Linked DNA regions of Homo sapiens. The protein of the gene in region 2 purifies or fractionates together with the protein of the main gene of each other region. This does not show direct contact. Each region holds a gene or a part of one and is shown on either strand. Other genes may lie near its edges.

Region 1 (3,500 bases), on a different chromosome or scaffold from region 2:
TTGCCCATGAAGTCAAGTAGGCTAGTTTGGAGGTGGTGTGTGAGGACAGGGTCCTGGACAAGATGACCCCCCCTCACCGGGCGGTAATCCAGATCCGTAAGCTCCTTGAGGCCCCCGCGCAGTAGGTCCAGCCACTCGCGGTCGCCCACTGAGTTCTCCTGGGTCCCAAAGACATAGATGTCATGGGGTATGGTCACTGTGACCTCGTCCAGGGTCTTCCCCAGACCCTTCGATGTGAACCAGGATGTCACGTTTTTTGGAGGTGGTACACTTCCTGGAGGTGAAGGGGGTGAGGTGGGTCTGGAGGGGTTAGGCACCTGCTCTGGGGCCATCCCTCTCTCCCGCCCCAGCCCCAGCCCGGGCCTGACCCATGTTCCAGGTGCCTATGAAGACTGAGATCATGTCGGGCTCGTCCTGCTTGGAGTGCTTGTTCTTCATGAGCTGCAACAGCTGGCAGAAGGCCTCCCGCTTCTGGGGGAACAGCAGCCACTCAGGGGCGGGTAGGCATCCAGGAAGCCCCCCGTCCACAGGGATACCCTGCCAGTTGGCTCATGTCCATGAGGAGAGGGTCTGTCTGGTTCTCCACTGCATACCCACTGCTCAAGCATATAACAGTGCTGGCAAATGTTATCCACCCTCAGGCCACCCGTTCTCAACACCCTCTACCCTGTCAGACCTACCCCTGCCAGGAGGGATGGCATGCCTACATCATGTGTTCCCTTTCTTACCCTCCAATGGGAAGCACCCATGTGGGGGACCCCCGCAGTCCCCAGTGGCCTGGCCCAGCCTGCTGCTCACCCGGGCACTGACAAAGATGAAGTCCTTGCGCTGAGTCCGGTCCTTCTCCTTCTCAAACACAACACCCAGCTTGTTCTGGACACGCTGGGACTTAATGAGCTGGCGGACTAGGGCATGGAGGACCGGTCACATGGGCCTGTGCCCCTAGGCCAGGGGCTCCGCCCTGCCCACCCCTCCCAGGTCTGGCCCTGGCTCACTGCGGTCGTGCGTGAAGGTGGTCCAGTCCTCCTGGGAGTCCCGCTGTCTCCGCAGCAGCACCAGCCGCCCACCCTCCACATCCACGCTCAGCGTGAACTTCTGTGACTTCCCAATCTTGGTCAGGTCACCCAGGGTCACATCTAGCTTCACCTGTAGGCCAGGTGGGGAGGCTGCTGACAAGACCTTGGAGTAGGCAGCACCCTGGTCACCTCCAACCACCCTTGGCCCTGTGAGGCCCCACTGCCATGTACCTCAAAGGCCTGCACGGGGATGGTCTTGGCCTTACGTGTGGATGGCTGCGGAGCTGGGGGTGCTGTGGAGCTCATGTCCTGTAGGGCCTTCAGGGCCTGGAGGGAACAAGGGCAGGGCGGGGTCAGGGGACACACTGAAGGCTGGGGCAGGGAGGGACACAATTGACCTTGGGGCCAATGTTAAGTTGTAGACTGAGGGTTGAGATCAGTGCTAGGCCAATGACAGTGGCCAGTGAATCGGGGGTCAAGGGTCAGAGATCATGCCACCTTCTTCTGGATGCCTGACAGGAAGTCCTTTAGCACTGACAGCTTCAGCACCAGGCTCTCTAGTTCCTGCTCCCCTGTCTGTGGCAGGTTCTGGGGGGAGGAAGAACCAGGCTTGTACATGAGTCACCTAAGCAGAGCCTCCCACCCAGCTCCAGAACACGAACGCACCTCCCAGAGGTCTCCCTACAATCTACCTGCTGCTGCAAAAGGCGGGTCACCATGGGCGAGCTCTGCTGGTCAAACACCTTGGACAGGATCTCCAGGCCTGACAGGACCTTGTCCACCTCACTAGGGAAGACATCAGATCAAAAGAACTCCCACCCCGACCTAAGTATAGGGAAGGGGGCGCTGGGTGTAGCCTCAACCTCACCACAAGGATAAAGGCTACCAGTGAGGAAAGTCAAGAGGCAATGGCTAGTTCACTGTTCAGGATCAGAGATCAGGGCACCTGTGCAGCCGGGAAGCAGGTGAGGACAGGTCAGAGGTAAGGGTGTAATACATGGGGCTGGATGTCCCAGATACCTGTGCAGCCTCCGGCATGAGGTAGCGAGGGTACGGGTGAGGTGGGGCAGGTGGCTGGCTCCACCCCTCACAGCTTCCAGGTCCAGCCCATAGCTGCCTTTCAGGTAGTCGTGCGAGACGGTGCTCAGCCCATTGGGAGCACTTTGGGGAGGGGTTAAGAAGTCAGTGGAGGTCCTGCTGACCTGTCCCAGCACCTCTGCCCCATCCCTAGAGGAGATAGTACCTGTGGCAACCAGGGCGGGATGGATCAGGTTATCTGCCTCTGGGCTGAGGTGGGGTGGGGGTCCCTGGTGGGGTCTTAGAAGGCCTCCCCACCTTTGGTAGGGAAATAGTTCTCAGAGGAGAAAGGGTCTCCTGTTCAGTGGATGGGATGGGGGTCTCACCTCTCAGCAGCTGGAGCTGTGGGAGTCTCAGGAGCTGGCAGGGGACTGCTGGGCCCAGTGGGGGCAGAAATGCTGGTGGAGCCAGAGCGCGGGGGCAGCGGGGGCTTCTCATCCTCCCCATCTGTGGGCAGGGGTCAGTGGGCAGCCGTTTGGGCCTCCCACACTCAGTGGAGTAGGAGGCACGATGCAGCTGTAAAGTGACTTCCATGGAAAGAGGGTTAAAGGGCCCCGGCATCATGGCCAAGGGAAAGGGGGTTACAGGAGAGGTGGGGTTGAGAAGGGGGGATGGGAAGAGGCAGGTAGAGCCAAGGGACAGGGGCAGGGAGGGGACCTGCACACTGGGAAGTACCTGAGGCATCCCGGTCATCCGGTGGGTCCGGCTCTCGCTCACCCTCTACAGGAAGAAGCAGGGCGCACACAAGGCCCTGGTTGGGCTGGGCGTACAGGCCGATGAGCTCACCCAGGGTCTGGAAGCGGCGCACAGGCACACCCTGCGAGGTCTGTGGGCCAGCAAGGGTGGGAGGAAGGGTCAGCCAGCAGGTCCCCAAGCCCTAGGCTGGATCAAGGTCAGGGGTCAGGGGCCCAAGCTCCTACCTGCACAGCCAAGAAATCTTCTCCATCAGGCAGAATGCGATACGTGTGCACATGCTTCTGATACCTGATGCCAAGGCAGGGCCAGAATCTGTCACCCCCAGGCTGGGGTCTAAGACCCAAAGCACCCCTTCCTCCTGCCAGCAAGCTCAGCACCCCAACCCCCTCAGCTTGGTTTCCCTAAAACCACCTGCCCAGGCTGCACAGGGTTAATGATGTGGCCGGTCCACTTCCACCCTCCTGGTGTTGCCTATTGGGCAGGAATGACCAGAACACCCCCGTCTCCCCACCAGACCTACACAGACTCCACACCCACCACAGGGCAGGGCCTGAGAAGCAACAGGGAGCTCTTTTGTGGCCTCCACAGCTGTCTAAACAGCCCCTCTGGGCTGTGGTACCAGTCTGGGCTCCCCGCCAGAGTAAGAGTCTTCAGAAGCCTGGTTAGCCCATTTGCACACACGGGCAACGTGCTAACACGTGTGTATGCCTC
Region 2 (3,500 bases):
ACAAAAGAGGAAATTCTGTCATTTGCAACAAAAGGGATGAACCCAGAGGACACTATGCTAAGTGAAACAAGCCAGGCACAGAGAAGCCAGTACCTCCTGATCTCACTTATATGTGGGATCTACTTCTAAAGTCATAGAAGTAGAGAGTAGAATGGTGGTTACCAGAGGCTGGGGCGAGGAGTGGAAGGGAACAAGGAGATGTTGGTCAATGGATACAAAGGTTCAGTTAGACAGGAGAGTAAGTTGTTTAGATCTATTGTACATCATGATGACTATAGTTAATGATAATATATTGTATATTTAAAAATAGCTAAGAAAGTGAATTTCAAATGTATCACCACAAAAGAGCAAGTGAGGCAATGGATTTGTTGACTTGACTTAATCATTCTACATTGTATACCTATACCAAACATCACATTGTAATCTATAAATGTATACAATCATGATTTATCAATTAAAAATATTTTAAAAAAGAAATAATAAAGACAATTAGCTATAAAATTAAAAAGGCAAAGGGGTTTTCATTAAAATGAACCTGCATCAAAATCATAGTAAATGCAACTAAAGAGCTATTTAGCCCCAGGAAAAGTATGAACTATGCTGAGCCTGGGTTTTTAATAGTGTTGTGGTAAAGATTAATGAGATAAAATATATAAAGCAGAATACAGAATTCCTGGGAAATATTAGGTGTACAATCAATAGGTGGTGTCATTATTAATCTCTGGGAGATTCCACTCTCTCATCTGTAAAATGAATACAAAATACTTACTTTTTAGTTATTTCTTGAGGATGGCATATGGAAAGTGCCAGAAACCTATCTGGTGTTTAGCGAATGCTGTTATGTAAGAATATCTTGCAGGAGCCCAAGTGAGAGATGATAAACTAAGGCAATGGCAAGTGGGGTGAAGAAGAGGTCATATTCCAGGGAGCATTTTGAGGTAGAACTGACAGGATTTAACAGCATGGAATTGGAACATGAATTTGGGAGTAATCAACATATTGTAGTCCAATTCCTGGGAATCTAGTGTGAGAACAGAAGAGGACCCAGGGGTGTAAACTTGAAAATACCAATATCCAAGGGGAAGGAGGAAGAGAGAAAGTGAGGGAATGAAGCAGAGAAAAAGTGATATGAGATGAAAAAGAATCAGAAAAGCAGAGCCATGGAAACTCTGGGAGGGAAGACTTCCACAGAGTACTAGTAAGATAAACATATATTTGTGCTAAAGGATATGGCAATCAGATAGGTCATCAGTGAAACTAAGGGAAGCAATTTCAGCATTGAAGCTGTGTTGACTATTGCTCAAATCCCACTGACAGCACCTTTATCATTCCTTTTTCACATTCTACTCACCTTGAACAATTAATTCCACCTCTTTTCTGTTTTTCCCAATCAAATTAACTCCTTCACACACATAAATTCCAGAATCTTCCATCCTCATAGCAATTAAGGTGAGAGTTGCATTTCCAGAAAGGTGCTGTAGATTCCCATTATCTAATTTCTTACTCCAGAAAATCTCTGGAGCTGGTAGACCCTCGCTGGAACAGGTCATGGTCACAGAGCCACCTTCTTGCAGCTTTGTGGATGGATTCACAGAAATAACTGTATTCTTGGGTGATACTGAAAGGGCAAAAAATAATATTAGCAATTGCTAAGCATCATCCCAGTGCAACAGAGGTAATGTATTTCTCTTAGTATTTATGTGCTTCCACCAATTTGATGAAATTACTCTGCCAAATTAGTATAAAGAACTGCTGAATCATTCAAAATAGTCTATCCAGTTTCTGACTAAACTGATCAAGTTTAGTTGATGTTTCATATTTTTCAGATGGTTGTAGATACTCAGAAATTAAGAAAAACCATGTGGCTTAACCTCCCACTTAAGGGTAAGAGTCCCATTTAAGCATTCTTGCCAAGTGCCCATTCAAGTCAGCTTCAACATTTACTGAGAGAATCAACCCACTGCTTTCCAAAAGAGTCAATTTGATTTTTGGACAGCTCTACATATTAGCACATTTCTCCCTATTGAGCTGAAATCTTCTCTCTATACTATTTTAAACATATTGGCCATAATTCAGCCCTGTGCTGTTACAGAATAAGGTAAATCACTCTTTCATATAACTGTCTTTCAAATGCTTAATTAGATGTCTTTTCCAGCCAGGTTTTGTTTTCTCTTCAGAAAAATATCCTCTATCTTGACTATTCTTCTCAAAATATTGTTAAAAGCCTTCCCAGCTCATTCTCTTTCAGCTAAACATGCCGTAGTTGGCAATACTCCCTTTAAATGTGGTACCCAGTGCAGAACATAGCATTTTAGTCCAGAACAGAGCACAGTGAGGCCACTCCTACACAACGCTGGGACTACAAGACTCCCACAAATCCCCTGGCAGTATCAGGGAGATTGGAGGCAATCAAACCCCGTCATTTTTCCCCTGTCCAGTGCACCTATGTATGTATGTGCATATGCATACACACACACACATACACACACAGAATAAGTGATCACCTTGTCAAGTTTCTGTACCTGTGCAACTAATAGTTCAAGGCATACTATAAGAGTTTACAAAACAATATTAAAATGTTTTATCATTTGAGCCTATTTCCCACTACCCAATCAGGTGGTATTACTATTCCCCTTTTATACACTGGGAAATAGAGAAATTAAGTAACCCAAACTCACACAGTTAATAGAGCCAGAAATTAAGCTCAAGCCTTCTCAGTCCAAATCCAGTGTTCTTTTCACTGAATTATACTATTGACAAACATTATGTTGTGAATGAATACAAATGGAATACAAACTATATACAAGTTTTTTTTTTTTTTACTTTTCTGCTAAGTTTATTGCTATACACAACCAAGGTGGGATTCCCACAAAGACTGGAACACATCGCACAAGTACTTACTGTAGACTTGCAATTCTTTTACAGCCTGCCTTACTGTGGGCACAGAATCCATTTCATCAATGTGTAATTTAGCTCGGCAAACAAGAACTTTTCCAATATCCTCAATGACAGGAGTAAAGGTTACTTCCAAACTCTTGGTTTCCAGGGACTTCCTGTCTGCATCCTCCAGAAATTCCTGACTCTTCATGAGATGATCTCCTTTCAGTAAGTCTATCTCCAGCCTGTCAAATGGGTATACATCAGCAACTGAACACTTGACTGTGATCGGCTTCCCAGCCTCCAGAGGGCCACTCAAATGAATCTCTGGATCCTTAGGAAAAGCTGAAAAGGCCAAACAAATACATGGATGGGCTTTTTGCTAATGTGATATAAGGTCTCTTACCACTTTAACACAATACAAATCAAGTCTAGCGTTTTTGTTAATACAGTCTTAATACGACAGAACTGTTTGAATAGCCTTTCATGATTTGGGGTGAGTTCAAGGCACAAGAATTGGAAGCAAACATTTTTTACAACATTATTCAATTCTGATCCTGTATATATTAAGAGTTGCATGTTATTACAGTAAAAGAAAGAAGAAAAAATAATGTTTATATTGA
Region 3 (3,500 bases), on a different chromosome or scaffold from region 2:
AAGTCAAACGGGAGCTGCAGGAAGCCACACTTACTGCACTGTCCAAGAATAAATCAAAAGCTTTTAATAGCAAGAAGTTAAAAATAAAGCAGCACGTCCTTAAAAATAAAATTTCCTACAACTGACAAAATAAAGGACGAACACGCACTGGTTGTTTCTTAACCACTAGTGGACAAGCAAAGGGAAAAAGCACACAAAGACCCTTTAAATAGTAGGAGCATGGCATGTTGAAGATAGCTTTGCAGACCAAATGAACTAACAACTAAGCCCACTCGTTGCAAAAAGCTTAAGAATTCAAGTGTATATTTTTAAAATGAGAGGAGCTTGTTAGGATCAACACTCAGTGGAGGCTAGTATCCTAAAATTAAATTAGAAACATCTTATCAAGAACCAGCAGAAGTCATAAAGATGAAATGAGTTGCTACATGTACAAAACTGAGCACAGTGCCTGGCCCAAAGTAAGCACTCAATAAATGGTGCCTGTTGTTGTTATTGTTGTTGTTCCCTATTCCTAACTTTCTATTCCCAGAAGCTCTCCCTCCAGGTAGCCTGGGTTGGGGGAGGGTACTGTCCTTACACAGGAGCTCCCAAGCACTCTAAAGCGAGCGTGACCATCTGCGCTCTGCCTCCTCTCAGATCAACGGTGGCATGAGATTCTCACAGAAGCGCGAACCCTACTGTGAACTGCACACGCGAGGGATCTATGTTGTACACTCCTTATGAGAACCTAATGCCTGATGACCTGAGGTGCACGCGCGCGTGCACACACGCACACACACATGTGCAGTGACTCTTACAAGGATTTAAGAAGAAAATCTTAGATATCCAAGGGTCCCACAAGTCTTTTGCGCATGAGAGCCACAATTCATGAAAAGAAAAAGCAATGTCTGAGGAAACAAAAATTCAACAAGAAATGCCCTCCATCCCTGGAATTGCCTGTACCTTTTTGGTCCTTCTCTGGTAGGCGAAGGCAATATCCTGTCTCTGTGCATTGCTGCGGTTGGTCAAAATGTTGACAATGGTGACCTCATCCACACCTATGGAAATACAAGTTGTTAATCGTTACTCAGTATACTCTAGTATTTTGGGCTTACATAGAAGGTGTCAAGCAGACTTTTTCAAACTGAAATTTATATACTGTTTTCCAAACTGAAATACCCAGACACCAAGATTTGTTCTATCTCTTTCGTCAGCATCCTCTACCCAATGTGTACACTCTCTTTCCTTTTTTCTTGAGAGCCTCAAACCTCAAGCTTAAATGGACCTTTTAAATACTTGTGGTTTAAAAACTATTTTATTCATAAATTGGTTTCTGGAATCAACAGTAGGAGGTGCATATGTGGGGCTTTGGCAGTCAGATGGAACAACAGAGATTTAGTAGGATTTTAAATGAAGGTCCCCAAATTGCCATTTAACTCGGGATTTAATAGAGAGTAACTGCAAACTGAATTAATAGAGATAATTATTTATACTTATTGCAGGATTATGGCTATATAAGCAGCTAGGTATAATTTCTATAATTATAAAAACTGTCATGACAAATGAGTCAGATTTAACACGGCAGTTGTATTTTTAATAGCATAATTGATTAACACAATCACACTTATTGAAGACAAAATTGTTTTGTAAGGAAAATAAACGTTCCACTGCCTTTAATCTTCAATAGGCAATTTTAATAATTAATTTTATAACTTTATTAAAAAGAGTAAGTGTTTTAATCTAAATTAAATCTAAATTGGGAGTTTTGAGGTGCCACCAAAATATTTTAGTACCTATTTTAATTGGAACATGTGTATTTACAAAGATAAGCAATGCCTTCTGGTGTCTGCAAGTTTCCAATTTCATATCAGAAATACTCCTAACATGCCATTTAACTTAAGAAAGCACAGTTTGTAAATTCAGAATGTGAAAAGTCTCTCTCCTGACTGATTAATAACTTTGTTTAATGAAAGAAACAGTCTTTGCCATAACTGGATAGGTAACTCTTGGGTGAGAGAGTAGAGTTGCTAAACCTACAAAGTCACTTGCAAACTACAAATGGCTTGGCCTGAAGAAAATCAGAGGAGTCCTGAAGAAACAGAAAGGTCAAAACTGTAACGCTTGAGACAAAGACAAACAGCAGATTGACAGAGGAAGTATTTTGAATTCTCAAGTGTGTTAGATCAAAAAGTATAAAGTTAGAATTTCTGGGTATAAAAATAAATAACTTTTTAAAATGTATATGCTCATTTCAAAGCAAGTCCATACCAATATGCTTGCTATCTTAACTGTAGCATCTATAACTTTAGCTCTCATTTTTAGAGTAGCCAAGGTAAACATAGAAATCCAATTGCTGCTGAGTCTCCCTCTCCCTCTCCCTCTCCCCCTCCCCCTCCCCCTCCCTCTCCCTCCACGGTCTCCCTCTGATGCCGAGCCAAAGCTGGACGGTACTGCTGCCATCTCGGCTCACTGCAACCTCCCTGCCTGATTCTCCTGCCTCAGCCTGCCGAGTGCCTGCGATTGCAGGCGCGCGCCGCCACGCCTGACTGGTTTTCGTTTTTTTTTGGTGGAGACGGGGTTTCGCTGTGTTGGCCGGGCTGGTCTCCAGCTCCTAACCGCGAGTGATCCGCCAGCCTCGGCCTCCCGAGGTGCTGGGATTGCAGATGGAGTCTCGTTCACTCAGTGCTCAATGGTGCCCAGGCTGGAGTGCAGTGGCGTGATCTCGGCTCGCTACAACCACCTCCCAGCCGCCTGCCTTGGCCTCCCAAAGAGCCCAGATTGCAGCCTCTGCCCGGCCGCCACCCCGTCTGGGAAGTGAGGAGCGTCTCTGCCTGGCCGCCCATCGTCTGGGATATGAGGAGCCCCTCTGCCTGGCTGCCCAGTCTGGAAAGTGAGGAGCGCCTCTTCCCCGCCGCCATCCCATCTAGGAAGTGAGGAGCATCTCTGCGCGGCCGCCCATCGTCTGAGATGTGGGGAGCACCTCTGCCCCACCGCCCTGTCTGGGATGTGAGGAGCGCCTCTGCCCGGCCGCGACCCTGTCTGGGAGATGAGGAGCGTCTCTGCCCGGCCGCTCCGTCTGAGAAGTGAGGAAACCCTCTGCCTGGCAACCGCCCCGTCTGAGAAGTGAGGAGCCCCTCCGTCCGGCAACCACCCCGTCTGGGAAGTGAGGAGCGTCTCCGCCCGGCAGCCACCCCGTCCGGGAGGGAGGTGGGGGGGGTCAGCCCCCCGCCCGGCCAGCCGCCCCGTCCGGGAGGTGAGGGGCTCCTCTGCCCGGCCGCCCCTACTGGGAAGTGAGGAGCCCCTCTGCCCGGCCAGCCGCCCCGTCCGGGAGGGAGGCGGGGGGGGGGGGGGTCGGCCAGCCGCCCCGTCCGGGAGGGAGGTGGGGGGGTCAGCCCCCCGCCCGGCCGGCCGCCCCGTCCGGGAGGTGAGGGGCGCCTCTGCCCGGCCGCCCCTACTGGGAAGTGAGGACCCCTCTGCCCGGCCAGCCGCCCCGTCCGGGAGGGAGGTGGGGGGGTCAGCCC
Region 4 (3,500 bases), on a different chromosome or scaffold from region 2:
TTTATACAACATACCTCATCTCCAATGGAAATATTGGAACATTTTCTTCCATTTTCCCCTGTTCCATTCACCCCGTTCTTGCAGTAAGATTTGTAACTTATTGTTACGCCTTCTGACAATTTGCCGTTTTCCAAAATGACTTCTGAGGAAAGGGACTAAAAGAATGCCTAATTATACACAGGAAAAGTCAAACAAAATGCTACTTGAATGCATAAAACCAATGGATAAACTGCTCAGAAAAAAATATATTTCAATAAAGTATCTACAAGCCAAATCCAATTGAGTAACTAGAAAACACAGAGGCCAGAGAAACAGGTTTTAATTAATAAGGATCAAATCTTTAAAATAAAATACACAATTGAAAAGAGTATTCCTGTTTTAATCACTGAGTTAAAATACTCAGGATCACACAGTGCAGAGGGCTGTTACTAATTAGGAGGAGTCTTAAAAATGTGGAATAGGCCGGGTGTGGTAGCTCACACCTGTAATCCCAGCACTTTGGGAGGCCAAGGTAGGTGGACTGCCTGAGCTCAGGAGTTGGAGACCAGCCTGGCCAACACAGTGAAACCCCATCTCCGCTAAAATACAAAAAAAAAAAAAAATTTATCCAAGCATGGCAGTGTGCACCTGTAATCCCAGCTACTCGGGAGGCTGAGACAGAAGAATCGCCTGAACCCGGGAGGCAGGGGTTGCAGTGAGCCAAGATCACACCACTGCACTCCAGCCTGAGCAACAGAGTGCGACTCCATCTAAAAAACAAAAACAAAAACAAAAACAGAAACCCCCCAAAAAAAAACGAAATAAATGCTGTCTTCCCCATCGGCAAAATGGCATTTCTGTAGTCCTACCTCTCCAGCTAACTATGGACTAGGGTAAACAATCAACTATGCAGTCTAGGAACAAATTTGCTTAAGGAACCATTGTAGCCCAGCCAAAAAAAAAAAAAAACAAAATCCCCCAAGAAGGAAGGATTCAAGCCAGGGCTTGTTTAACATATGAGACTATTCAGGACAAATGGAGAAGGGTACAATGGCAAGCTATCTCTTGTTCACACCCCTGAAAGAACAAGAGTTAGGAAAATTATCTAAGACAGGGGAGAATGGGAAAAGCTGTGGAACAAGTAAAATATTAAAAACCTTTATAAAAACCCCTCCAAGTCAGGCCTTTCCAAACCATTATGGTACCCCATAAAAAAGGGAAGCCTCATATGGTAGGCTGGCCTTTCCAAAGCGTTATGGTACCCCCATGACATGAAGTAAAAATGTCTAAAATTCAAGCTGCCAAAGGGTTAGGGGGATGGGGGCTGAAAGTGGTGCACGAGACACACAAGGGTTACCTACCAAATTACAACCGCCTTCAGATTATTTAAATGATTATTAATGAAGGCTAACTCGGTGTGATTAAAGTACACTGAATTATGCTCAAAAAGGATAAGCCAATTCCTCTTTAATTTCAATTCAACTTCCTCCCATCTGTGAGGGGAAAACAACACTATAAATCTTTTTGAAATAGGCAAATCACATGTATATTTACATTTTTATATATTTTATGGTATACGTATATATGAGTGTGTACCTCCTGAAATAGAAACCCATATCCTCTGAATATATGGGAAGAGAAGAATTGGCAAAAAAAAAAACTTTTCTAGCACAATTCATCAGAATAGATGACTCTATAAAGGATATTTTGGGGAGGAAAAAGATTGGAGAAATCCTGTAAGTTTAAATGTAAGTTATGTTTTACAATTGCTTTCTAACAAGGAGATCTATTCCTTAATGATAAACAAACAGTTATTTGGAAATACTCCCCACATGCCTTTATCACATTTTCACTTTGTTTAGGCCATGAATCTTGCTTTTGTAAGACAATATGTATAAAGTTTTTCCTCTAGATACATACAGAATTTAAGTTTTTCTGTAGTACTTTGGGCTCGCTAAAGTGTGTATGAAGGAAGTTTTACTTTCTTTGTACAAAGTATTCTCAACAGGGTATTGTCCAAAACTGATCTTATTTAAGATGTACTCACATTGTATGCATCAATGATCAACTGAATTACATTGCTAGAATTTGCAGATAATGTTCCTACTGCTGACTTAGGGATCAAGTTTTTCAGCTCCTGCAATTAAAAGATAAAACACGTAAAATACAACTGCTATTCATTCAACCAATTAGGATCCACTGAGCAACTTTTATCTTTAAATGCCAGTTCCCATGTTTCCTCCTAACTAACTTTAGGAGTCAAACCTAGAAACCAGTTTTATAATATGTGATTAAAAATTAATATAAACCACTTTTGTAAAATTCGGTTTGCCTATCTGGTGGCATTTTCCCACATTTCAATTCAGACATGATTTGCCTCTAACAATCAAAAATGTTTAGAATCTTGTTCTTTTTATCTCACACATTTACCTTGTAAACAGGCTGAAATTCTTCAGTAACTGCAAAAATTGTCTGAATATTATTTTCACTCAGTTTCTGGACAAGGTGAGCAATAGAAGGATAATCCTAAGAAATCAAGTAATATAATTTAGTATTTAAATACACCCTTATAATCTCTTCTAATTTTTCAATCTAGTTATACATGCAAGATTACACATAACTCGATTACAAGACTGCTTTAGATAACTAGATTACATATATAATCCATATATAGCTAGATTACATCTAGTTGCATACATATAACTAGATTACAAGACTGCTTTCAAATAACAGTATCAAATATAAACTGCTGAAGTGAGTCGTGTGTATACATGAATTGCTAATCCTCTTCTCTTTACTTTCATGTATGAATAAAAAATTCCATATTCAAAAGGTTTTAAATAGTAAGTTTATCTATGTATATTAAATATAAGGACAATGAAATTAAAGAATAGTCAGTAATTAAATATTCTATTATCTACAACTTAAGAAAAAGACCAAGATTTACCATTTGGATTTCTTCTAGAACTTGAATGCTTTGCCAATATTTATTTTCAATAAAGGCAGAGTGACTGCTTTTAAAAATCGTATAAAACAAAGAGTATGAGACTAGATAAATTATTTATTTAGAAAGAGTACTGACTGTGCTACCAAATGCTGTGGGCGGGGAGTTGAGGCAAAGAGTGAAAGTGGCATCTGGGCATCCCTTTCCCACCCCAGTGAGGCCCTTGTCTGAGCAGAAGGAAGCAAATACAAAGCTGCATCTTCACAAACAGCAACACTAGCTTTCCTGCACTTTCAATCAGGACCCCTACTTACCAAAACAGCAAAACCTCAAACCCTGAGAAACCCCAAGCCAGTCACCCACAAGCTCTTAGTATTAAACATTAAAATCCAACATAAACACATTCACTATGTAAGGAACCAGGCACTTACATAATAATGGCTCATTGTGTACATATTATTTTCCAGGTGACATTGTCCATCATTTGGTAAAACAATGCCACCAAGTTTCCCATCTCCAGCAAAGTGAAACCCGGCATCTGTGGAAAACACCAGCAGCCGTGTAACATTCCTCCAGC
Region 5 (3,500 bases), on a different chromosome or scaffold from region 2:
CACTCATCTGCCCACAATTCTTGTGTGCCTGTGCATAAAATGGGGAAGAATTTAGCAAAGAGTTTCATATCACAGCTAAGGAATTAAGGTTGGATGCTAACTCTAACGAGAGAGAATTATGGGGACACTGGAAAGGTTGAGGAGTACAAGATATGAGAACGAGAGGGTAACGGGATGGAGGCTGATAAGGGCTATGCAGAAGCGATGAGTCAAGGGATACAGTCAAGGAACTTGCAGACATTCTGGAGATATGAACAGAGAGTTTGGAAGTAGAAGGGCAAAGAGAAGGCCTTCTGGGCTGAGTATTCAGAGTGGGGGTAACACCTTATAGTGGACAAAGACTATACTCTTTCACAGTAATTTCAGATTATGCTACCTCATTTGATCCTATCAGTCCTACACGGGGCAAGTACTGTTATCCCAAATCAGAGGTAAATAAAAGATTACAAGAATATTGAACTGAATTGCACAGCAAAAGCAGGGATGGAGCTGAGACTAAAAGCCCAAGCTGTCTGCTTTCTTGGCAGAGGTGAGGTGGGATAACAGCCCGGTGGGTGAAAGCCAAGTTAGGGGAGACGGGGAGGAGGCAGGGGGCCATTTAGTCAGTAAGATTAAGCAGCAAAGCTCCGCGGTCATCCCAAATACTTTCCCCTACCCACATTCACCTGGAAGATCTTACGCTCTCCCTTCTGCTTCACATACTCCTTGGGCAGGAAGTCCTTCAGGCTACACCAGAAAAGGGAGGGTCAGCATGTGGTAGACAGCATCAGGGGACATGTGGGCCATGAACTGTGGGCCTGGGGGTATGAGGAAATACCTAGGACAGTGTTATCTTTGGGGAGAAAAAAGACTCTGAGGGAATAGAGTCTAGATTATCTTCTGAAATAGAGGTGACTTCGTGTAAACTCTTCTTTTTTTTTTTTGAGATGGAGTTTCACTCTTGTTGCCCAGGCTGGAGTGCAATGGCACGATCTCAGCTCACCAAAACCTCCACCTCCCAGGTTCAAGTGATTCTCCTGCCTCAGCCTCCCGAGTAGCTGGGATTACAGGCATGTGCCACCACGCCTGGCTAATTTTGTATTTTTAGTAGAGATACATGGTTTCTCCACGTTGGTCAGGCTGGTCTCGAACTCCCGACCTCAGGTGATCTGCCCGCCCTGGCCTCCCAAAGTGCTGGGATTACAGGTGTGAGCCACCGAGCCTGGCCAGTATGAATTCTTAATGTGACCTGTGTCTCTCCCTGTAGGGAAAGGGACTGAGGAAAATTAAGTTAGAGGCTCAGTCCCTGAGGGAAAGTGGGTCTAGAGCACCATTTCAGGGAACCAAGAGGAGAAAGAGCTTTCTAGAAGGATGAACATGCACTTAGGAAGCTGAGAAAGCCACGCCAAACTCTGCATTCCAAGAAACACCAGCAGATGAGGCTTGTGAGACTTTTAACCCATGTTCCCTATAGGGAAAATTTTACCCGGTTTCCCTCTGGCTACTGCAGCAAAATTCTTCAGATAATCTCAAAAAAGAGTGACATGCTTGCTTCAGAGATGGGGGTAGGGGCAGAGATACTGAACTACATTCATATTCCAGAGGCAGAGAAGAGACAATGGATGATGGCAACTAAAAGGGTAGCTATGTTGGTCAAACCCTGGTACCTCGGAAGAAGAAATAGTGGGGGGCAGGCTTGGAATGGAGACAGGCCCACTGGGGTCACAATGGCAGGGAGTCCTGGGCCCTGACAGGGTATAGGATGTGGGTCACTCACTCAAGGAAGCCAGCCTTGTGCTTCTGCTCATTGTGGGGCCCAAACTGGATCTGGCATTGGAAGCCAGCAAACTCACAGGCCTTGTCAAAGGAGACAGGGTGGGAGCCATTCAGGATGTCATCTCGTGCCTGGAGAGCACAGGGCAAGGAGGCGAATGTTGTGTGTGGGTGCAAGGACACGCACACTGTGCTTCCGAGCCCTCCCTATTCCTGCCCCACCCCAGCCAAGTCCTCTGCATACCTGCACATACAGGAGGTTCAGCTGTACAGGGTCCCGGGAATCCACATTCTGGTCTGAGTAAAAGAACTTCCTCCGCAGCAGCAGCGTCTCGTGCTCCTCTACACCCTGCTCCCTCAGTGTCCGACCATGGTCCAGCCAGTTCACTGGGATACAGACAGTCCCCTCAGTGCCAAACCCCCATGGCCCCTGTGCTGTCTGGTCTCTGTTTATTTCTGCATTTCCTACCTCCCCTCACTTAAATGTAAGTCCCATGAGTGTAGGACTTTGTTTTCTCACTGATGTATCCCCAGGGTGTAAAACAGTGCCTGGCAGAAGCAGATGCTGAAGCCCCTTCCCACCCTTCCCATTTCAAAAGCCCTCTTTTTTCTAGTTCTGCTTACACTCATCATCTGTGTGCAATTTCTGCTTTAGTTTCTCCATCTTCTTTTCATCTCGCAGCAATGTCTTGTCCTTTCTTAAGGTCCCTGTTATTTCCTCCTTTTTCTCTTCCATCAGCTCTCGAACCAATGAATATTCATCATGATTGGTGATGCCTGAGGAAGGAGATGGCTTGTTAGCTTCCCAGGTACTGCATCCATGCCTTTTGAGAGAGTTGAGGCTTTCTGGCCCAGGCTTTCAACTGTACTAGGGCCCCTTACCAATGCGGGCACAGATGGTCATGAGCATGTCAGTGACAGTCTTAGAGTCATCCACCATGATCGTCTTCACAGTTCCATCCAGCATACGGATCTTCAGGGGTCTCTGTTTCTTCCTGTACTCCATAGTGTCCTGTTAGGGCAGGAAGAAGAGACAGGGGCCTACTCTGAGCTAGGGGTATTATTTCCTCTTTACACAGCCCGAGGGGAGAGAGTGGAGCACTGAAAGGAAGACTATGGTGGTTCGTTCAAAAGCAGGGAATTATGACTGTCTGTTAATAGGAAGAAAGCATGGGGAGGGCTAAGAGACAACAGATGTGGGTGCTGAAAACAGGAGGTGGAACAGGGAGAAGCTGATGGAAGGGGATGTGGTGGTCCTTGATGAAAGGATACTTACCCCATTTCGGAGCATGTAGTAGTCCAAAGCTTTCCCAGCCTCCAGCCATATACCCTTTTTGGGGTCATCATCTGACAGAAAGAGCCCAAAGTCGCTGGCTAAAAGAGAGGATGGATCACTTTAGGCTTATGAAGACCCCAATGTGGCTGAACAGCTTGTACCATGTTGCCCCTGACTATTTCTCCCATGACCTTGGGCCTAAAGAACGAGGGAACCATGGAACACAGACCTGAGGGGTGAGTAGTCTTAGGGGACAAAGGGGTCAACTCTCAAGGCCGAGAGCCTGGGAACAAGAAGGGACTGAAGACTCCCACTCCAGCCACCGGGGGAGTCAGACTCACGAGGACCAGCTGGGGCCTCTGGGATCCGCTCACGAATGATGCGGCAGGCGTCGTACACCATGGTAGACGGCTCAAACTGCATCGTCTTCACCACATTCCCAATGCTGATCTTCAGTGAAAGTGCAACCATG
Region 6 (3,500 bases), on a different chromosome or scaffold from region 2:
CATCATTGTTTTCTAAGTATCTGTGGAGGGAATGACTTGAGAGTGAAGAGTGTGAAGTTTGCCGCTGTGGTCACTGTCCTTGGTTTCTGTGTCTGGGTTAGTGTCACTGACCTGTAGCTTTGGCCCTGCAGACCGGGGAGCTCTGCACAAAGCCATCAGCCTCGAGCACGCTGTTCACATCATCGAGGAGACCCAGCTCTTCCAGGACTTTGAGCCAGTCCAGACCCTGCTGCTGTCTTCAAAGAAGGTAAAGTGACGCAGGCAGCTGGACCGGGGGCTTCTCCGCTCGGTGGCTTTGATTCTAGGTGACAGGAGAGTTGGCAAGCTGGAGTCGGGCTCCTGGGCAGGCCCCTCTGTCTGTCTGCCCTGGGTGAGCCAACCTTCAGAGTTTGACACAGAGCCATTCCGTGAGCTGTGGGATCTGAATTGGGGAAGGCAGGAAGGCAGACCTGGGGAGACGGGACTTTCTCTTCGAAGTTGCTGGAATGTCATTGAGTTGTTGGTGCAGCTTTACAGGCTGTGGAGAGGTGGGCACTGCTCCATGAAGACACCTTTTTATGCCCTGAGCTTGGGGGGTGTGCAGACTGCATCTGTGGGATATGATAGTGATACAGCTGACTCGTCACCGTGGAAAATCCACAAGAGAAGTGGTTCGTCTCATCTGTAAAGCTGTCTCCACCTGTGGCTGAGACTCTGGTCTGGCCTGCAATACTCCCAAGCAGCCCTTGGCAGGGGTGGGTGGGCGGGCATCCACGCTGGCCTTTAGGGGGCTGCCTCCCTGGCCCTGGCTCCTAACGGGACCTCCAACCACCTTGTGGGATCCAGGCCCAGTCAGTCCTCTCCTCCCTCAGCTGGGAGCAACAGGCAGAGGAAGAGGGCCCCTGTCTGGCCGGGTAAGATACCTACCCTTGGCAGGTGCGTATTTGCAAACACCCCTCCAGGTCTTCTGTCCTCTTCCCTCCCCTGTATCCACAAAGCTTGGGAGCCTGGGTCCTTTTACGTGGTCACCTCCCCTCTGCTAATGGAGAGTTCTCCCTCAGATCTGAAAGGAAAAGAGAATGAAATAGCCTGAGCAAGTTATAAGCCACTGGGTACTGGCATCTGTTCACCAGCCTCTCGGTCTCCAGGACACAAAGGGAGCCCTGGAGATTTGAAGGGTCGACGCTTTAGCCACTGTGGGGCCTCACCCCAGCCTCGTTGTTGAAAGAAGGGGACCCAGAAGCTCTTCTGGGGCCATCGTGCTGTTCAGTGGCCTCAGCCAGACTGGGCAGGCACCTACAACATCTCTAAAATGTGGACTTCTCATTAGAATGAAGATTGGGCCCCTGGTGTGGACATTCGTGAGAATGACACTCTGTTCCAAGGGTCACTTAGGGACCCAGGCTGGTGGAGGCTTCCAGGGCACATGGGCACTGATCCTCAAAGGCAGAAGGGGGTAGGAAGAGGAGGGCCGCACAGAGGGGGTTACGGGTCAGTGCCCACCCGCCATCTCCCAGAACTCGGTCACATGGCCACACCAGGGCAGCTGGCCACACAGGGAGCCTCGCGCCCAGGAGGAGGAGCCAGTGGGTTTGGGGAAGCGCTTGCTGGTCCTACTGGACCACCCGACCCGCCTGTCTCTGTAGGAGCCTCCATTCGTGGGGACGTGGCTTAGTTGCCTGGACAAGCGGAAATACATCCTGCCTGCCGTGGGGTCCTGTGCCTTCTCCTTGGGCCTCAGTAGGCTCCAGGTGGGGGTGGAAGGCCCAGCTCCATGGCCATGGCAGCAGGAAGTGGCTGTTCAGTGGTAAAAAGACTGTGCCGCCTGACCCCATCAGGCTCTCTCACGGTGATCAGCAAATGGAGAAACGGCCAGTACCACGCCCTCCCCCTGTCCTACAGCTGGGGAGGTGCGCTGTGCCTCCACCCTCACCTCCTCTCCCCTGATGACAAGCATGGGGTTTTGCTTTTTATTTTGGTAAATACACATCAGATGAAATTTGCCGTCTTAACCATTTTTCATTGTGCACGTCAGTGGCATTAAGAACATTCACGTTGTTTTGCAGCCATTACCACTGTCTGTCTGCAGGGTGCTTTTCATCTTCCCAAACAGAAGCTTTTTACCTGTGAAATACAAACTCTTCATTTTCCCCTCCTCCAGCCCTGGGCAGCCGCCATTCTGCTTTCTGTTTCTGTCTGGGTACCTCATATGAGTGGAATCACACAGTATTTATCCATTTGTAACTGGCTTATTTCACTTAACATAAAGTCCTCAAGGTTCCTCCCTGCTGTAGCAGGGGTCAGGGTTTTCCAAGGCTACATACTCCTCTGTCGTATGTGAATACCGCATTTTGTGAGTCCCGCATTTTGTGTGTGCGTTCATCCCTTGATGGACACGGTTGCTCCCACCTTCTGGCTTCTGTGAACAGTGCTGCTGTGAACGTGGGTGTGCAGATACCTCAAGTCCTTGCTTTCCATTCCTTGGGCGCACACAGCAGATGCGGTTTGCTCGGCCCTCTCTGAGCCCACCGAGTAGGCTGTGTCTGTATTTTCACCAGGACTCCTTGGGATGCTGAGCTACAGCTAGCGTGGCAGAGGGCAAGGAAGGCACTTAGACAGCTCAGTTGCCTCTGATCACGTCCACCGTCACTCCAACCTGCCCTCGGGGTCTGACGCGCACACACAGCAGCAGAGACAGAGATGGGAGCATGAGAGCTGCCTGCAAGGGGACAATCCTCAGGCCCAGGGAAGGCGGAGACAGGGGGCGTCGAGGGGCAGGAGTGCACAGGACAGGCTTGCTCTCAGCGGGCCTCACTCATGCTGCCAGGTGCCTGGTCAGGCTTTTTTTCTTTGCCTTTAAAAATTTTGTCTTGAAATAATTTTAAATTTACAGAAGAGTTTTGATGATTGCACAGAAGGATCTTGAGCGCCCCCACCTAGCTCCACATGTCCGATGTCTCACATAGCCAGTGTGCATTTATCTGAGCCAAGGTGCTGTCATGGTGCAGTGCGTTACCTGAACCCCAGACCCTGGACCCTCCTACCTCCCGCCCACCACATTCCTGGCTCAGCACCTCAGGTTGCACTGGACACTGCATCTCCTCGGCTTCTGCTCTGTTCCTGCCTCCCTGACCTCAGCACTCCTGGAGAGGAGTAGTCTGGTGTTTTGTGGTGTGTCTGGTGTATTCTTGTGATTATCTTGGGGTCGTGGTTTTAGGGGGAGCACCAAAGAGGGCGCTTTCTGGGGATGGGGCATCTGTATGACTCGCACCAGCGTGATGACCTTGGTCATTCTGTCCAAGTCACCACCGTCTTTTTCCATGTCGAGTGTGTCGGGGCATGTAGTCCACACTGGGGGTGGGGGAGAGTGAGCCCCACCTCCCAGGGGAGTCATGTGGGAAACCCCCACAGTCATTCATGCTTATTTGCAGGGACAGACTTGGAGGCTACAGAAATGCCCTGTTCTCCCACCCACTGACATCCACATCGACCAGTGGGTCCTGCCTGCAGCAGTTACAGCT
Region 7 (3,500 bases), on a different chromosome or scaffold from region 2:
CTTACCATAATATAGGCTCTGCCCAATATCCTACAATTATTTCATACACTAATGTACTCTGTAATGCCAAAGCCCAGCTTAACTCCCTTCTCCAAAAATTTATGCAAGCACACAATCCAAAGATCTTTTTCTCTCTTGCCCTGTAATCACTATTTTCACACTCACTTCACATAACAAATATTTATTAAACATCTACTATGGTACATCATTTTAACCAATGTGAATAGAGCCATTAACAGACGTCCTTATCTTCATAAACCCTACATTTTAATTGTGGAAAACGTGATAAACATAAAAGTAAATGTATGTCAGAAGCTGATAAATGAGAATAAAGTAAGAAATAAGAAAATAAGGTGAGAAGGACTGACTGCTAGCCAAGGAAGGTCTCTAAATAACATTTAAAGGACACCTGTTTAGCCAGGCATGGTGGCATGTGCCTGTAGTCCCAGCTACCCAGAAGACTAAGGTGGGAGAATCGCTTGAACCCAGGAGACAGAGGTTGCAGTGAGCCGAGATCACACTACTGCACTCCAGCCCTCCAGCCTGGGCAACAGAGTAAGACTCTGTCTCAAAATTTTTTAAATTAGGCCAGGCATAATGGCTCACACCTGTAATTCCAGCATTTTGGGAGGCCGAGGCAGGTGGATCACCTGAGGCCTGGAGTTCAAGACCAGCCTGGCCAACATGGTGAAACCCCGCCTGTACTAAAAATACAAAAATTAGCCAGGTGTGGTAGGAGGCACCTGGAATCCCAGCTACTCAGGAAGCTGAGGCAGGAGAATCACTTGAACCCAGGAGGCAGAGGCTGAAGTAAACTAAAATTGTGCCACTGCATGCTAGGCTGAGTGACAGAGCAAAACCCTGTCTCAAAAAATAATAATAAAAATAAATTTAAAATTAAAAATAAAGGACATCTGAGCAGAAGTCCTAAAACAAATAAGAAAAATGAGTCACACAGGTATCTGGGGGAGAAAATTCTGAACAGTCCTTTGCATATGATCCTTTATACGACATAGCTTTTTATGTCCAAAAATGTTTTTTTTTTTTTTTTGAGACGGAGTCTCGCTCTGTCGCCCAGGCTGGAGTGCAGTGGCGGGATCTCGGCTCACTGCAAGCTCCGCCTCCTGGGTTCACGCCATTCTCCTGCCTCAGCCTCCCAAGTAGCTGGGACTACAGGCGCCCGCCACTACGCCCGGCTAATTTTTTGTATTTTTAGTAGAGACAGGGTTTCACCGTTTTAGCCAGGATGGTCTCGATCTCCTGACCTCGTGATCCGCCCGCCTCGGCCTCCCAAAGTGCTGGGATTACAGGCGTGAGCCACCGCGCCCGGCCCAAAAATGTTTTTATGAAGAAAGAAGATATATTTGAATCAATGCTCTGTCAGAACTTCATTGTCAGAAGCAGAAATATTAAAAGATATAAGACTGCACACTAAGGAGAGGGATCCCTTCAGTTGAGGCCAGCTGGACAGTATCTCTCCAGTCCCCCAATCACACCGAGCACCATGCCCGCCCCTCTGGAAACTGTTCATTAACCAGCGCTCCAATAGTTTGGATGGCAATTCTATTATCATCAAATAACTAGTTTGAGCCCCAATAATGACCCAGGACTGCAAGACTTTGACACATCTAAAAAATGGAACATTAAATTCAGTTCCCTTTTAAGCTTTAGTCTGCTTTTCTGAAAATATAGTGTTGTCCATCTACTACTATTGAAAACTGAACTGTGGTCACTCTGCACAAACAAGTATTTTTAACCCACTCTATTGACGCAAAAGAATTTTTAAAAAATATTTTTTAAAACATTTCAGGTTTCTAACACAATACAGAATTTTAAAAATATATGCTGTCAGTTTAAAACAAAAACATATATTTGTTCATTCATACTGCATCTCACTCCAGAAAGACAAAAATTAAAAAGTAAGCAAACAGGCCAGGCGCAGTAGCATGTACCATAATCTCAGCTACTTGGCAGGCTGAAGCAGGAGGATCACCTGAGCTCAGGACTAGCCTGGGCAACACAGTGAAATCCTGGACACACACACACACACACACACACACACACACACACACACACACTTAAAAAGCAAGCAAAGAATAAATTTACCACATTATTAAAAGATTTTCACTTCTCACTAGATTTTTTTTTTTTTTTTTGAGACGAAGTTTCACTCTTGTCCCCCAGGCTGGAGAGCAATGGCGCGATCTCGGCTCACTGCAACCTCCACCTCCTGGGTTCAAATAATTCTCCCGCCTCAGCCTCCCAAGTAGCTGGGATTACAGGTGCCTGCAACCACGCCCAGCTAAGTTTCGTATTTTTAGTAAAGACGGGGTTTCACCATGTTGGCCAGGCTGGTCTCTAACTCCTGACCTCAGGTGATCCACCCGCCTCAGCCTCCCAAAGTGCTGGGATTACAGGCGTGAGCCACTGTGCCCGGCCCTCACTCGATTTTTACAGAAAAATCATTTTGTAATTTTTATAATAATTATATACACATTATATACACATATATAAAATAGCAAAACTGCATTTTGTTTTCTGGTATACTTTTAAGGGATAATTTATCCGAGTTTAAATTTACGATTACCGGCAGGGTGCGGTGGCTCACGCCTGTAATCCCAGCACTTGGGAGAGGCTGAGGTGGGTGGATCACCCGAGGTAAGCAGTCTGAGACCAGCCTCGCCAACATGGCGAAACCCTGTCTGTACTAAAAATATAAAACTTAGCTGGGTGTGGTGGTGGACACCTGTAATCCCAGCTACTGGGGAGGCTGAGGCAGGAGAATCACTTGAACCTGGGAGGTGGAGGTTGCAGTGAGTCGGAGAGTGCAGTGAGCTGAGATCACGCCACTGTACTCCAGCCTGGACGACAAAAGTGAGACTCCATCTCAAAAAAATAAATAAACTTATGATTAACTACTAAGAGCTGAATGGGATTTCAGAACAGACCAAACTTTGTTTCCATTTTTTGATTTTTTGTTATATTCTAAATATATGAAGTACAAGCAAAAGTATATTAAAACCAATTTCAAAGTTACTGTCCACTCTTAGTTGCAAAACTGGAATTCTGTCACAAAGAAATTAATCAGTTAAACTTTCATGTGCATATGGACACCTACTTGCTAACAATTCCTAATCTAAATTTCATCAGCAACTGAAGCTAAACTAAGTATCATTAACTAGCAGAAACATTAACTTTCCCAAAGAAAATAAATCACATAAAATAATTTACCTATTATACAATGGGCCGGGCGCGGTGGTTCATGCCTGTAATCCTAGCACTTAGGGAGGCCAAGGCGGGCAGATCAGGAGGTCAGGAGATCGAGACCATCCTGGCTAACACGGTGAAACCCCGTCTCTACTAAAAATACAAAAAATTAGCTGGGTGTGGTGGCAGGTGCCTGTAGTCTCAGCTACTCAGGAGGCTGAGGCAGGAGAATGGCGTGAACCCGGGAGGCAGAGCATGCAATGAGCCGAGATTGCACCACTACACTCCAGCCT

Evidence for each region.
Region 1: the proteins of VCAM1 (region 2) and INPPL1 purify together in Homo sapiens (affinity purification with mass spectrometry, with the first as the bait; one large-scale study listed by BioGRID). This does not show direct contact.
Region 3: the proteins of VCAM1 (region 2) and ANXA2 purify together in Homo sapiens (affinity purification with mass spectrometry, with the first as the bait; one large-scale study listed by BioGRID). This does not show direct contact.
Region 4: the proteins of VCAM1 (region 2) and ITGB1 purify together in Homo sapiens (affinity purification with mass spectrometry; 2 studies listed by BioGRID and IntAct, with this or other methods). This does not show direct contact.
Region 5: the proteins of VCAM1 (region 2) and TLN1 purify together in Homo sapiens (affinity purification with mass spectrometry; 2 studies listed by BioGRID and IntAct, with this or other methods). This does not show direct contact.
Region 6: the proteins of VCAM1 (region 2) and SEMA4D purify together in Homo sapiens (affinity purification with mass spectrometry; 2 studies listed by BioGRID and IntAct, with this or other methods). This does not show direct contact.
Region 7: the proteins of VCAM1 (region 2) and NAA15 purify together in Homo sapiens (affinity purification with mass spectrometry, with the first as the bait; one large-scale study listed by BioGRID). This does not show direct contact.

Annotation. Positions count from the first base shown.
Region 1 is NC_000011.10:72,227,767-72,231,266, reverse strand, and holds part of INPPL1 (phosphatidylinositol 3,4,5-trisphosphate 5-phosphatase 2), read right to left. Parts: intron 3,078-3,500; coding exon 3,014-3,077; intron 2,920-3,013; coding exon 2,769-2,919; intron 2,541-2,768; coding exon 2,420-2,540; intron 2,260-2,419; coding exon of another isoform or gene 2,178-2,259; coding exon 2,037-2,177; intron 1,803-2,036; coding exon 1,709-1,802; intron 1,605-1,708; coding exon 1,515-1,604; intron 1,344-1,514; coding exon 1,248-1,343; intron 1,147-1,247; coding exon 996-1,146; intron 906-995; coding exon 799-905; intron 472-798; coding exon 369-471; intron 275-368; coding exon 78-274; intron 1-77. UniProt on the Homo sapiens protein: Phosphatidylinositol (PtdIns) phosphatase that specifically hydrolyzes the 5-phosphate of phosphatidylinositol-3,4,5-trisphosphate (PtdIns(3,4,5)P3) to produce PtdIns(3,4)P2, thereby negatively regulating the PI3K (phosphoinositide 3-kinase) pathways.
Region 2 is NC_000001.11:100,722,742-100,726,241, reverse strand, and holds part of VCAM1 (vascular cell adhesion protein 1 isoform a precursor), read right to left. Parts: intron 3,223-3,500; coding exon 2,902-3,222; intron 1,619-2,901; coding exon 1,352-1,618; intron 1-1,351. UniProt on the Homo sapiens protein: Cell adhesion glycoprotein predominantly expressed on the surface of endothelial cells that plays an important role in immune surveillance and inflammation.
Region 3 is NC_000015.10:60,363,487-60,366,986, forward strand, and holds part of ANXA2 (annexin A2), read right to left. Parts: intron 1,038-3,500; coding exon 943-1,037; intron 1-942. UniProt on the Homo sapiens protein: Calcium-regulated membrane-binding protein whose affinity for calcium is greatly enhanced by anionic phospholipids. It binds two calcium ions with high affinity. May be involved in heat-stress response.
Region 4 is NC_000010.11:32,920,231-32,923,730, forward strand, and holds part of ITGB1 (integrin beta-1 isoform 1A precursor), read right to left. Parts: coding exon 3,355-3,500; intron 2,506-3,354; coding exon 2,410-2,505; intron 2,117-2,409; coding exon 2,027-2,116; intron 156-2,026; coding exon 15-155; intron 1-14.
Region 5 is NC_000009.12:35,722,196-35,725,695, forward strand, and holds part of TLN1 (talin-1), read right to left. Parts: 5' UTR 3,500-3,500; coding exon 3,370-3,499; intron 3,127-3,369; coding exon 3,029-3,126; intron 2,765-3,028; coding exon 2,635-2,764; intron 2,530-2,634; coding exon 2,377-2,529; intron 2,140-2,376; coding exon 1,997-2,139; intron 1,885-1,996; coding exon 1,757-1,884; intron 727-1,756; coding exon 666-726; intron 29-665; coding exon 1-28. UniProt on the Homo sapiens protein: High molecular weight cytoskeletal protein concentrated at regions of cell-matrix and cell-cell contacts. Involved in connections of major cytoskeletal structures to the plasma membrane.
Region 6 is NC_000009.12:89,383,114-89,386,613, reverse strand, and holds part of SEMA4D (semaphorin-4D isoform 1 precursor), read left to right. Parts: intron 1-131; coding exon 132-247; intron 248-508; coding exon of another isoform or gene 509-667; exon of another isoform or gene 668-3,500. UniProt on the Homo sapiens protein: Cell surface receptor for PLXNB1 and PLXNB2 that plays an important role in cell-cell signaling. Regulates GABAergic synapse development. Promotes the development of inhibitory synapses in a PLXNB1-dependent manner.
Region 7 is NC_000004.12:139,308,005-139,311,504, reverse strand, and holds part of NAA15 (N-alpha-acetyltransferase 15, NatA auxiliary subunit), read right to left. Parts: intron 1-3,500. UniProt on the Homo sapiens protein: Auxillary subunit of N-terminal acetyltransferase complexes which display alpha (N-terminal) acetyltransferase (NAT) activity. The NAT activity may be important for vascular, hematopoietic and neuronal growth and development.